Homo sapiens: one gene and its partners. The main gene of each other region encodes a partner of the protein of the gene in region 3 in a complex. Each region holds a gene or a part of one and is shown on either strand. Other genes may lie near its edges.

Region 1 (3,483 bases), on a different chromosome or scaffold from region 3:
ATATGTACCGCCTAAGTGCAGGCCCCACACCCGGGGGGATGCCAAGCTTCTGCTCTGAAAGCTGAGGCCCTGGGTGAGCAGAAAACCTTCCAGTTAAGGAGGGGTCCGCTGTGCTCCTGTAATACTTAGGTTGAGGTGATAACTAGCCTTAACTAGCCAGGTTGGTCACCTTGGTTACAAGCGTGTGTCTTCTTTTCCAGTAAGTAGGGGGGTTTTCTGTTCATCGTTTCGATTAGTTTAATTCCACAGTGGTCAGAAAGCGTGGATTGGGTGGTTTCATTCATTTGAACTTGATTCAGACTTCCTTCTTTGCCCACCTTGTGGTCAGCTTAACATATGTGCTGTGTGTGTCTTTTTTTGTTTGTTTGTTTTTGAGACAGTCTCACTTCGTTACCCAGGCCGGAGTGCAGTGGCACAATCTTGGCTCACTGCAACCTCTGCCTCCTGATTTCAAGTGACTCCTGTGTCTCAGCCTCCCGAGTAGCTGGAATGGCTAATTTTTTTTTTTTTTTTTCATTTTTAGTAGAGATGGGGTTTCACCATGTTGGCCAGGCTGGTCTCGAACTCCTGACCTCAGGTGATCCATCTGCCTCAGCCTCTGGCAGTGCTGGGATTACAGGCATAAGCCGCCGCCATGCCCGGCTGAAGTTACCGTTTTTAATTTTTTGCTAGGCAAAAGTGAAGTATTTTTCCCAATTATTGGTTTAGGACCGATTAAACAAGTTAAAGATAGTCTAGTAAAAGATGTCTATTTTTTTAATCTGATGGAGCACATGACCGAAGTAACTAAATCCACCAACAGCCCCTCTGCACAGGGGTTTCTGGTGCTGTCCCTGAGGCTTCACGTTTGCAGACAGACTGTTGAGAGAGGAGAATCTCGTATATTTTGGACCTGCAGCCAGGATTCCTTAAAATTAGCAATGGAAGCAAGTCCAGTCTTACACTTGTATGAGTAATTTAATCGCCTCAAACACTCTTTCTTTTTGCAGCCGAGTGCTTATTTCTACAGATGTCTGGGCCAGGGGGTTGGATGTCCCTCAGGTGTCCCTCATCATTAACTATGATCTCCCTAATAACAGAGAATTGTACATACACAGGTAAGGTGCAAGCTCTCATTGGCTTCACTTCTGTGACACATTTACTAAATCTTGATTGTTATATATACTAACTGTAATATTATTTTATTCCTGAAGAATTGGGAGATCAGGTCGATACGGCCGGAAGGGTGTGGCCATTAACTTTGTAAAGAATGACGACATCCGCATCCTCAGAGATATCGAGCAGTACTATTCCACTCAGATTGATGAGATGCCGATGAACGGTAGGAAATCGTCCAGCTCTACTGTAATTGTAGAGGGAACTTCCCTATTCTTAGTTTGGGGCACCTGAGTTTGTTTTTTTGTTGTTGTGGGTTTTTTTGTTTTGTTTTTGAGACGAAGTTTCGCTCTGTCACCCAGGCTGGAGTGCAGTGGCGCGATTTCGGCTCACTGCAACCTCTGCCTCCTGGGTTCAAGCAATTCTCCTGCCTCAGCCTCCTGAGTAGCTGGAATTACAGACACGTGCACCATAGCCAGCTAATTTTTGTATTTTTAGTAGAGACGGGGTTTCACCATGTTGGCCAGGCTGGTCTCGAACTCCTGGCCTCAAATGATCTGCCCACCTCAGCCTCCCAAAGTGCTGGGATTACAGGCGTGAGCCACTATGTCTGGCCTGTTTTTTGTTTTGAGAAGTCTGTTGTGAGGTTTTAGTTAAATTTACGTTAACAAATTTTCATTTTGTTTGTGTTGTTCCTTAATCTGTTTCTTTCTTCACTTTCAGTTGCTGATCTTATCTGAAGCAGCAGATCAGTGGGATGAGGGAGACTGTTCACCTGCTGTGTACTCCTGTTTGGAAGTATTTAGATCCAGATTCTACTTAATGGGGTTTATATGGACTTTCTTCTCATAAATGGCCTGCCGTCTCCCTTCCTTTGAAGAGGATATGGGGATTCTGCTCTCTTTTCTTATTTACATGTAAATAATACATTGTTCTAAGTCTTTTTCATTAAAAATTTAAAACTTTTCCCATAAACTCTATACTTCTAAGGTGCCACCACCTTCTCTAGTAACTTACTGTGTAGTCTTGGGTCATTTCACTCACTTTTCTTTTTTTCTTTTCTTTTTCTTTTTTTTTTTTGAGACAGTCTCCCTCTGTTGCCCAGGCAGGAGCGCAGTGGCGTGATCTCCTCTCACCGCAAGCTCCACTTCCTGGGTTCATGCCATTCTCCTACCTCAGCCTCCCACGTAGCTGGGAGTACAGGCGGCCGCCACCATGCCAGGCTAATTTTTTTGTATTTTCAGTAGAGACGGGGTTTCACCGTGTTAGCCAAGATGGTCTCGATCTCCTGACCTCGTGATCCACCCACCTCGGCCTCCCAAAGTGCTGGGATTACAGGCGTGAGCCACTGCACCCGGCCCATTTCACTCACTTTTCTAATCTTTTTTTTTGGAAAGAGTTTCATCGTTGATGAGTTTTGCTCTGCTGCCCAGGCTGAAGAGCAGTGGCACCATCACAACTCATTGCAGCCACAACCTCCTGGGCTCAAGCGATCCTCTCACCTCACCCTCCTGAGTAGCTGGGACTACAGGTGCATGCCAGCACATCTGGCTAATATTTAAATTTTTTGTAGAGACAGGGTCTCACTTTGTGGCCTAGGCTGGTCTGTCACTCATGGGTTTAAGTGATTCTCCCATCTTGGCCTTACAAAGTGCTGGGATAACAGGTGTGAGCCACCATGCCTGGCCTCATTTTTCTAATTTTTTTTTTTTGTTGTTTTTTTGAGAGCCCAGGATCTCCCTGTCGCCCAGGCAGGAGTATAGTGGCAGGATCATGACTTACCACAATGTTGACAAACTAAAACAGATAATTATCTGTTTAAATATTTAAATTATTAAAGTATTTAAGTTATCTGTTGAAATATTTAAAGTAATTACCTGTAGCTTTATAGGCACACAGCACCACAGCTGCCCAATTTTTAATTTTTTAAATGTTTTTAAAGACAGGGTCTCCCTCTGTTGACCAGGCTGGTCTTAAACTCCTGACTTCAAGCAGTCCTCCCGCCTCAGCCTCTCAAAGTGCTGGGATTACACACATGAGCCACAGACCGGGCTCTAATATTTGAAATGGAAATGTTAAAACTGGCCCCTCCCTTCCTGAAATTAGTTGGGATGATAATCTTTATTTCCGGGTTAGGGTGAGCTTGGAAATAATTTTTAAATTTCATCAGGTGATTCTACTTGAAGGCATCTGAAATTCTATAGTTTATGAATGGAACTTCCTTTCACTGAAACTGTGACTGGACCCTTGCTAGCCAGCTGGTGGCTGGTAGACCAGCTGCATCATCAGGAGTTGGTTAGAAATGCAAGTGCTCGGGCCCTGTCCTGGCTTGCTGAGTGAGAACCTGCAGGTAACAAGACTCCCAGGTGGCACTGCTGGCCGAGCGGG
Region 2 (3,600 bases), on a different chromosome or scaffold from region 3:
CGCCCGCCTCGGCTTCCCAAAGTGCTGGGATTACAGGCGTGAGCCACCGTGCCCGGCCTTCATCTTTCTCTTTCACTATCCTTTAAATGACTGACCTATGTGTAGTGTATAAAAAATATATATTTTTAAATACAGGAAGCAGCAACACTCAGTATGAGAGGATAATTTGCGTGCTAAGAGTAAATGGGGAAGCAAACAGTAAATAGAGGCAAATGGGCAAAGGTTGAGTCATAGGGAACCTGGACTTGCCTCAAGTATTTGTGGTTGGTAGTAGTTCATTACGTGGGCTTGGGCACCAGGTGGGGCCCCCTCAAGTCAAGCAAACGTCAAGACCAGTTTCGCACCCTTGTTCCTCTAGCTCCGGACCAGCCAGAGCCACCTACTCGGATCATGTTGGCAGAACCCAGTACTGTTTCGAGGCCAGATGCACCATTTCAGCAATTCAGGAGGAAATAAGCAGTGTGGATAAACTGATACCCATTTTTGAAAGTCGGCCTGGGTTCGCATTCAGAAGAAATGTCGACGCTAGCCATTTTTTTTTTAAAATGGGTGATTTGATAACTCAGGGAAGTCTTGCCACTGTAATTTTTAAAAGTTTGCTTGCTAGAACCAGGTACTTTCTAAGAAGTGTATGGAAAAAGCCTTGATTCTTCTTCGCCCTGGGTGGTTTTTACGTCGAACACCTAGAAGTGCTTCTGGAAATCCCCCCGCAGGACTTTCGATGTCTTTTAGGGCATTCTTAAGACTAGACCCATTCCTAAGCGACTCCCACCTCCCAAACCAGCCATATGGTTTAGTTTCTCCAGTTTCCAATTTTCTAAATCTTCAACGTCTCCCCTCGAATTAGTCCAATCAAACTTTCTCTTCTTAGACCTCTTCCTTAGGTTCGCACCAGGAAACGCCCAGGAGAATCACGTGGCCGGGCTTGTCCTTAATGGCGCTCCGTAACCCTCCCACTATTCCACCACACTTCCTCGCCTCCCGTGAGCTCCGCCCCGCCCCATTCGCGCTTCCCACCCCCATCCCCCGCGAAGCGCCTGCGCCTGCGCAGCTCCAATTCAGGCGCTTTCCCTTTCCTGGCGACCAATCCACTTCCTGCCTCGGGTCCTCGGAACACTCCACCCCTCCGCTGGGGCCCTGGTTTGAGGTGCTGGTAGTGGCTACCTTACGTATTGCCAGTCTGAAAAATTCGCTCTTCTCATCGACTGGGGAATTTGAAAGAGCTGTTAAGTGAATGGCACTCATATGAGCCTTTGCCCCGGACCCGCCACCCCAGAGTCAAGCTGAGGGCATCGGCATGCCGCAGGGAAGACGATCAGGACTGTTTTTAATCGGGCAGTCGCGCGGATGGCCTTTTCCCTCTCGCCTCCTTCCGCCCCGCCCCCACTCTCAGCCCGGCCGCGCTGGTGAGTGGCGGGCGGGAGGGCTGGCGGGCGGAGGGAGGAGGGGGAGCTGAGGGAAGGCGGGCCCTCGGCTGCGAGATAGGTGGGGGGAGGGGAGGGGAGAGCCCGAGCGCTGGAGTTGGTGCTGGGAAACCCGGGGCTAATGTTGACAACAGGCTCGAGGTGAGTCCCGGGGATCCTCCTTCCCCTCCGCTCCAACGATCGGGAGGAAATGGGGCTGGGGGGCACCGGCCTAGACTCCTACTCCCTGGGGGACCCCAGAGGCGACTCCACACTCCAGCTCTCCGGGGTCGGCGAGCAGTGGAGGGACCGCGGGTCCGGCGTCGTTCTCCTCAGACCCCCTGTCTCCGAGGCTCCCATCAACGCGGGAGCCCCCGGGCCGGGCCATGCTTGGGGGGCGGTGGAGGAGGTGCCTGCCCCACATGCCTGGGCCGGGCCTCGAGACTGGAGGCGGGGAGCCCGCGGTGGAGGGGCGAAAGTGTTCGGGGGCGTGGAGGAGAGCGAGGGGAGGTCGGGGGAAGCTCCTCGAGAGCCGGGAGGGAAGCGAGGGCGAGAAAGTGGGGAGGGCGCGTGTGTGGGAGGCTGCGGAGTGGGGAGACCGGCCGGGAAGGCTTCTGTGGCGAGGGAGTGTGGGGCGAGAAGTTGGGGTTGGGGCAGCGATGGTCCGCGAAGGTGACCGTGGATACCTGTGGGAAGGGGAGTTGTGTCGGGGAAGTGTGGTGGGTTTAGAGGTTCCTACACCACCAGAGCAGGGGTTTGTAGGAGAGGTATGTGTAGGGGAAGGGGCTTGGGGTGTATCTGGGGATGGTGGGCATGGGCTGTTTGGTTGACTTCCTTTTAATCACATAGGCTGGTTGATTCTTCACTTTACCTTCACCTCTTCAAGGCGCCAAGCACTCTCTTCTTGCTAGGACTGTTGGACTAAGGAAGTGATCACAGGATATTTGGTCCCCAGGTTGGCAGAGCAGAGCCAGCTGGGTCCACGCTGGGGTGATCGGACCTTCAGCTCTCTTGCTCATCTTAGAGGACTTACACGACACGAAACGATGCATCAGATCAAAGTGAAACCCTCGCTGACGCTTTATCTCATTTCCATAGTTCTTAGGTGTTCCTTAACATCGTCAGTCTCCTCATTTGTGAGCTGGTACAATTTCTAACAGTTCTTAATACGTCCTTTATACTAAGGATGTTCTTTAAAAAATAAAGTCAGAAACTGGGAGATAGTGTTCCTGTGCTGTTCTGTCCTGACAGCATTTTGAATAAGAGAATTGAAAGGTAAAACCGCATTCTCTCATACTGGAGTGTTTTCGGAGCACTCTGATTGGGATTTCATACATAATCCATATGGTACTTTGCAAGGGAATGTCTTTAAAAGGGAAACACCCCCTTTTGTGCCCTCTTCCCCCCAATACACTCCATTGGTACTTCTAGTAAATTAGTTTTACTTTCTTTTGGAAGTTCAGAATGTATTTAGAATACCAAATAAAATATACAGTTCAAGTGACAGGACACTATTTTGGGAGCTAGGAAGGTGGTTTTAAAGCATGGTTTCCTTTTAAGGGTAGTCTGAATATAATTGTATTCAGCAAACTAATTTGTAACAGCTAATCGGATTCCAGTGAAAAGATCACGACTTTTTCTCCTCACTATCTTGAGAAAGGACCTATTTAAAATTGTATTTGGACTTGAAAAACTTTTGGAAACACTTTAGATGAAAAGTTTGGCTGTTAAAGCTTGAAGTTATTGAAATAAGAATTTTAGCATTTTATTAAATATCACTTAGTGCTCAGTTTTTTAAGTCGACATAAAACAAACGTGTATTGAGGTGAATCACGGTGTTTGTATATTTTATTCGTTTTAGTGTAGGTAGTGAAAAAGCACTGGGTAGTGAGTGTTGGTCCAGCCACGGAAACTAGCTGTATATATAATCTTGGGTAGGTGACTCTGCTGCTATCCTTGGAATGTAAAAATTGAGGATAGAAGTAGATAAAATCTAATAGTCTTTATCTGACTTTACAAATCTTTCATTGTATGCTGAACTTCTCAGTGTTCTTTGTGACAGAACATTTATTAATGCCTCCCTCATGCTAGTTACTATGCTAGAATTTTAAGAACTCTACAAGATAGATAGCAGTATATCCATCTTATTGATAAATAAGTGGACTCAGAGAAGTTGTTGCCTGATTTCTGTAGCTAT
Region 3 (3,823 bases):
GAATGACAAATACCTTGGTCACCAAAGGAGAGATCCATTGCAGGAATAATTTTGCCTTGAGCCTGAGAATAACATACTTATGATGGTACAATTATCTTGCCATTAGAGATTAATAACAAGAATTATTTGGCATTTGATTTAAAAATCTAAAGGCCTTATACAACCAAATAGTGAAGTTCCATCTCTACTGAGTAGGAACTCTGTATTTAATGCCATATTTACGCATGTTCAAAAATGCCATTGTTTTTTACATTGCTGCTATGAATCTCTCGAGAATACCTCCAAGTGTCGGATAATCAGAGAGATTCTTAGGCAAAATAGAAGAATTTCAAGTCTCAGAGTGAAGGTATCACACAAGGTTCATCTCAGGGTGAAGGCATCATGTAAATTACTAAGCAAAAGGCAAAGCACCACAAGACATAAGCACAAAGCATTTTGGCACACAGACAGCCACTGCAAATGGTGAGTCCAAAATGGACACTGAGAAGGCACCAGTGTAAAATGAGGATACCATGTGCAGGTTTCATTGGAAGTGCTCTTATTTCTCCAATGAACATCCTTATTAGAAACCAAGGTGTTCATTACTCTAATAAGAACATTAATGAATGTCTCTAGCATGGCTGGCTCTACCTTCTGCCTTGCTGATTGTTAGGAATAGCAAGTCAAGTCACTTGTGGCATAGCAGACAGAGAGATTGCTGGAAAGAATTAAGATGAGAAACTCCATCCTCCCCCAAGCCCCTCATCATCAGTAATGAGCCCCGTAGAGACTTAGGGAACCCTTGCTACATAAACTGCTGAGTTTTCAGGAAATAAAATAAGGAGACCCTGCCACCCTCTCTGTGAGATTTTCTTTGACTTTATCTGAAGTGCTAGGTACTAGTACTTCCCCAGGAAATATGTTGAAACAAGGGCTGCCCAAGCCATGCCCTTAGAAGGGAAGTGGCAAGGTTGGGATCTTTCTGCAGGTTTTCTTCTTCCCAAATGCAATGCATGAATCCGAATCTGCTGCTCACAGATTCCCAGATATATGCAGGAAGATACTACGGGAGTCATGTGAGAGGGAAAGGCACATATTGCAGGGTATTTATCCCTAGTCCTCCCACAAGGCAGCCAGTTATGAGAAGCATATAAGAAGATGAGAAAGAACTATATAGGCATGGTTGTCCTCTGGCTGTAGGTCAATGAAGCTTCTGGGCACACAGCAGAGCATCAGGAAGTCACCTGGGCTTCCTTTTAAAGTAGAAATTTATAATAAAATAGCTCAGCTTTTAAGAAGACTCAAGTCAACCTGAAGGGGTTTTCAACAAGTAACACTACCACCACCACCACCAAAAGGACTTATTAGCTAAGACCTGTGTGTGTGACATGATACTAGATGCTCTGTATCATGTACTTGGTCCTTACATTTTTCTGATTCACAGCTTGTAACAGAAACCTGTGTACCTGAAGACAGTGGAAAACAAACAGATGAGGTAACTTCATGTATCAATTATGAAGAAAAAGCTGAAAAAAAACCATAAATCATGCCAGCCAGCCCTAAGCCCTCATTTACTATGAATTTAGAGGACAATAGTCTAAAAATCCAACATTTTCAATGACAAAAACAGCACAGATCTGCACTGAAGAAATAACATACTACTTTATCCTTTTAAATGATCTTAAATTTAAAAACTAATACTATTACAGGAAAGATTTTTATTGGATCACTTCCCCCCAAAAGAGAACAAAAACAAAACAAAAAATTCATTTACACCAACACAAGACGCATGCATATTTAAAGAAGTAGATACGTGCAATTTTTAGCAACATGCAGTCAGTTTCAACATTCTTATACCTTAATCTTTGGTTCATCCTTTAATTTGTCCCTTTCTGGAATTCTGTCTATCTTCTTTAGCTTTTCTATATCTTTCCTTTTTCGTTTCTCTTCTTCTTTCCATTTCCTCCTCTCTTCTTCTCTTTGTCTTTTTCTTTCTATTTCTCTCCTCCTCCTTTCTTCTCTCTTTTCTTCTCTCATTCTCTAGAAAGAAACATCAACACAAGCCTTCAAATAAAATAATCATCACCAAAACCCTAATAAATCCTGAAGTCATGGTAGGCCCCAACTGAATAATCTTTCCTTCCTACTTTCTACAAAGTGGCATTCTACCACCGTTATCCCCACTCCACCCAGAAAACGAAAGACAATGAAGACCAGAACCTGCTAATATTATTCTTCCACTGCTGCCTTACTATCTCTCCAGAGGCTTTCAGAATATCAAATGAGTGTCTCTGGGACAACCTAAGAACATTCCACGTTTGTAGAGTGAACTCCTGGTCCAACAACCAGAGTGAAGGAGCAGGCTAGAGAGTGAGACCAAGAAGGCAAATCCTTAAAGAGTAATGGTGGAAAAAGCAGCTATTTCTCCTCTAGAAACCCAATGCTCTTAAAATGTTTATAGAATGCAAAGCAAAGAAATTAAAGTATTGAGAGAACTATAAAGACAAAAGATTTACCTGCTTGTTTTTCAGGAAGCTCAAAAGTGGGGTTGTCTTTTTAGCTACATAAATGTAAACAGATTATTAATCATACTTATCAACCCCTAGAAACGATTCCATTTTCTGACATTCCCTGCCAACCACCCAAGGTGGGAAAACATGTACACCCCTTATGCAGAAAGATCACAATTGTAATATCAGAAAGAAGTTTTACAGCATTCGATTTCAACAATACGGGATTAAAATACCTTTTAAAAAGTAAAGAAATTCAAATTAAAACAACAAAATAATTTATTAAAAGAGTCATTCCCAACTGATGAGAATTAAGTACTTAGGACATTCTCTTGTTTTACTGATAGGAGTGTAAACTTGTTCAACTGGAAGAAGTTGGGGGGAAGGGGCTAAAAATATCTAATCCTTTTGACCCCATAATTCCACTTCTGGGAATTTATTCTAAGAAAGTTACCAGAAATAGGCTTGTACTATCCATCTATTAATAAAAGTCAAGTTTTGGAAGAATATTTTTCATTTTCAACATTCTGAATAAGCTATTGGCCTTACAGCCATCTTAAAACACATATTCCTGGCCGGGCACAGTGGCTCATGCCTGTAATCCCAGCACTTTCAGAGGCCAAGGCAGGCGGATCACTTGAGGTCAGGAGTTCGAGATCAGCCTGGCCAACATGGTGAAACCCCGGCTCTACTAAAAATACAAAATTGGCCGGGCGTGGTGGCGGACACCTGTACTTCCAGCTACTCGGGAGACTGCGGCAGAATCGCCTGAACCCAGGAGGCGGAAGTTGCAGTGAGCCGAGATTGCGACACTGCACTCCAGCCTGGGCGACAGAGCAAGACTCCATCTCTCACACACACACACACACACACACATACACACACACACACACACACACACAGAGAGAGAGCGAGCGAGCAAGCAAGCAAAAAAAACAAACAAACAAACAAAAAAACCCCACATATTCCTTAGGATAAATTCCTGAGTAGAAATCCTGGGTCAAAGATTATGCTCATGTTTAGAGCTACTGATACAGTAGTGACAGCCTATTACTGAGAACCAAGATCCAAGCTAGAATTCCTCAAGTAGTTTTCAATTTTGCAGTAACTAATTTCATTTTTTCGTATTTTCAAGTCAAAATTTTTTTAGGAATATGAACTTATTACTAGAAAATACCAATTGACCTTCAAAGGCTTACCACTGTCTAAACATTCCTTATCAGTCATCGAACTTTTTGTATTTATATTACATTTGTGTGAAACTAAATAGGTCAAAGAATTTTTCCCACTTTAATGGATTCTCATAATGCTGTGAGGCAGGTATTACCATCTGC

What was found.
Region 1: UPF3B (region 3) and EIF4A3 share a complex: the UniProt entries of both Homo sapiens proteins name them as parts of the mRNA splicing-dependent exon junction complex.
Region 2: the proteins of UPF3B (region 3) and UPF2 are in contact, whole or in part, in a crystal structure (PDB 7NWU), measured with the Homo sapiens proteins. Residues at the interface, in NP_542199.1 of Homo sapiens: Lys52, Arg56, Arg57, Tyr79, Glu81, Phe83, Asn85, Asp86, Thr87, Ser88, Leu89, Tyr90, His92, Tyr94, Arg96, Tyr98, Ile130, Glu132, Pro135, Phe136, Lys138, Ala139, Ala140, Arg147, Asp148, Lys150, Val151, Gly152, Thr153, Ile154; in NP_056357.1 of Homo sapiens: Lys767, Arg768, Pro769, Pro770, Leu771, Glu773, Tyr774, Lys777, Lys790, Arg793, Gln794, Arg796, Lys797, Leu798, Pro799, Trp800, Gln801, Cys811, Ile814, Asn815, Trp817, Tyr837, Gln838, Glu839, Asp840, Ile843, His844, Val846, Asp847, Gly848.

Annotation. Positions count from the first base shown.
Region 1 is NC_000017.11:80,133,842-80,137,324, reverse strand, and holds the end of EIF4A3 (eukaryotic initiation factor 4A-III), read left to right. Parts: intron 1-989; coding exon 990-1,097; intron 1,098-1,193; coding exon 1,194-1,321; intron 1,322-1,818; coding exon 1,819-1,835; 3' UTR 1,836-2,956; downstream 2,957-3,483. UniProt on the Homo sapiens protein: ATP-dependent RNA helicase. Involved in pre-mRNA splicing as component of the spliceosome. Core component of the splicing-dependent multiprotein exon junction complex (EJC) deposited at splice junctions on mRNAs.
Region 2 is NC_000010.11:12,040,720-12,044,319, reverse strand, and holds the start of UPF2 (regulator of nonsense transcripts 2), read left to right. Parts: upstream 1-1,510; 5' UTR 1,511-1,565; intron 1,566-3,600. UniProt on the Homo sapiens protein: Involved in nonsense-mediated decay (NMD) of mRNAs containing premature stop codons by associating with the nuclear exon junction complex (EJC).
Region 3 is NC_000023.11:119,839,240-119,843,062, forward strand, and holds part of UPF3B (regulator of nonsense transcripts 3B), read right to left. Parts: intron 2,540-3,823; coding exon 2,496-2,539; intron 2,020-2,495; coding exon 1,837-2,019; intron 1,446-1,836; coding exon 1,407-1,445; intron 1-1,406. UniProt on the Homo sapiens protein: Involved in nonsense-mediated decay (NMD) of mRNAs containing premature stop codons by associating with the nuclear exon junction complex (EJC) and serving as link between the EJC core and NMD machinery.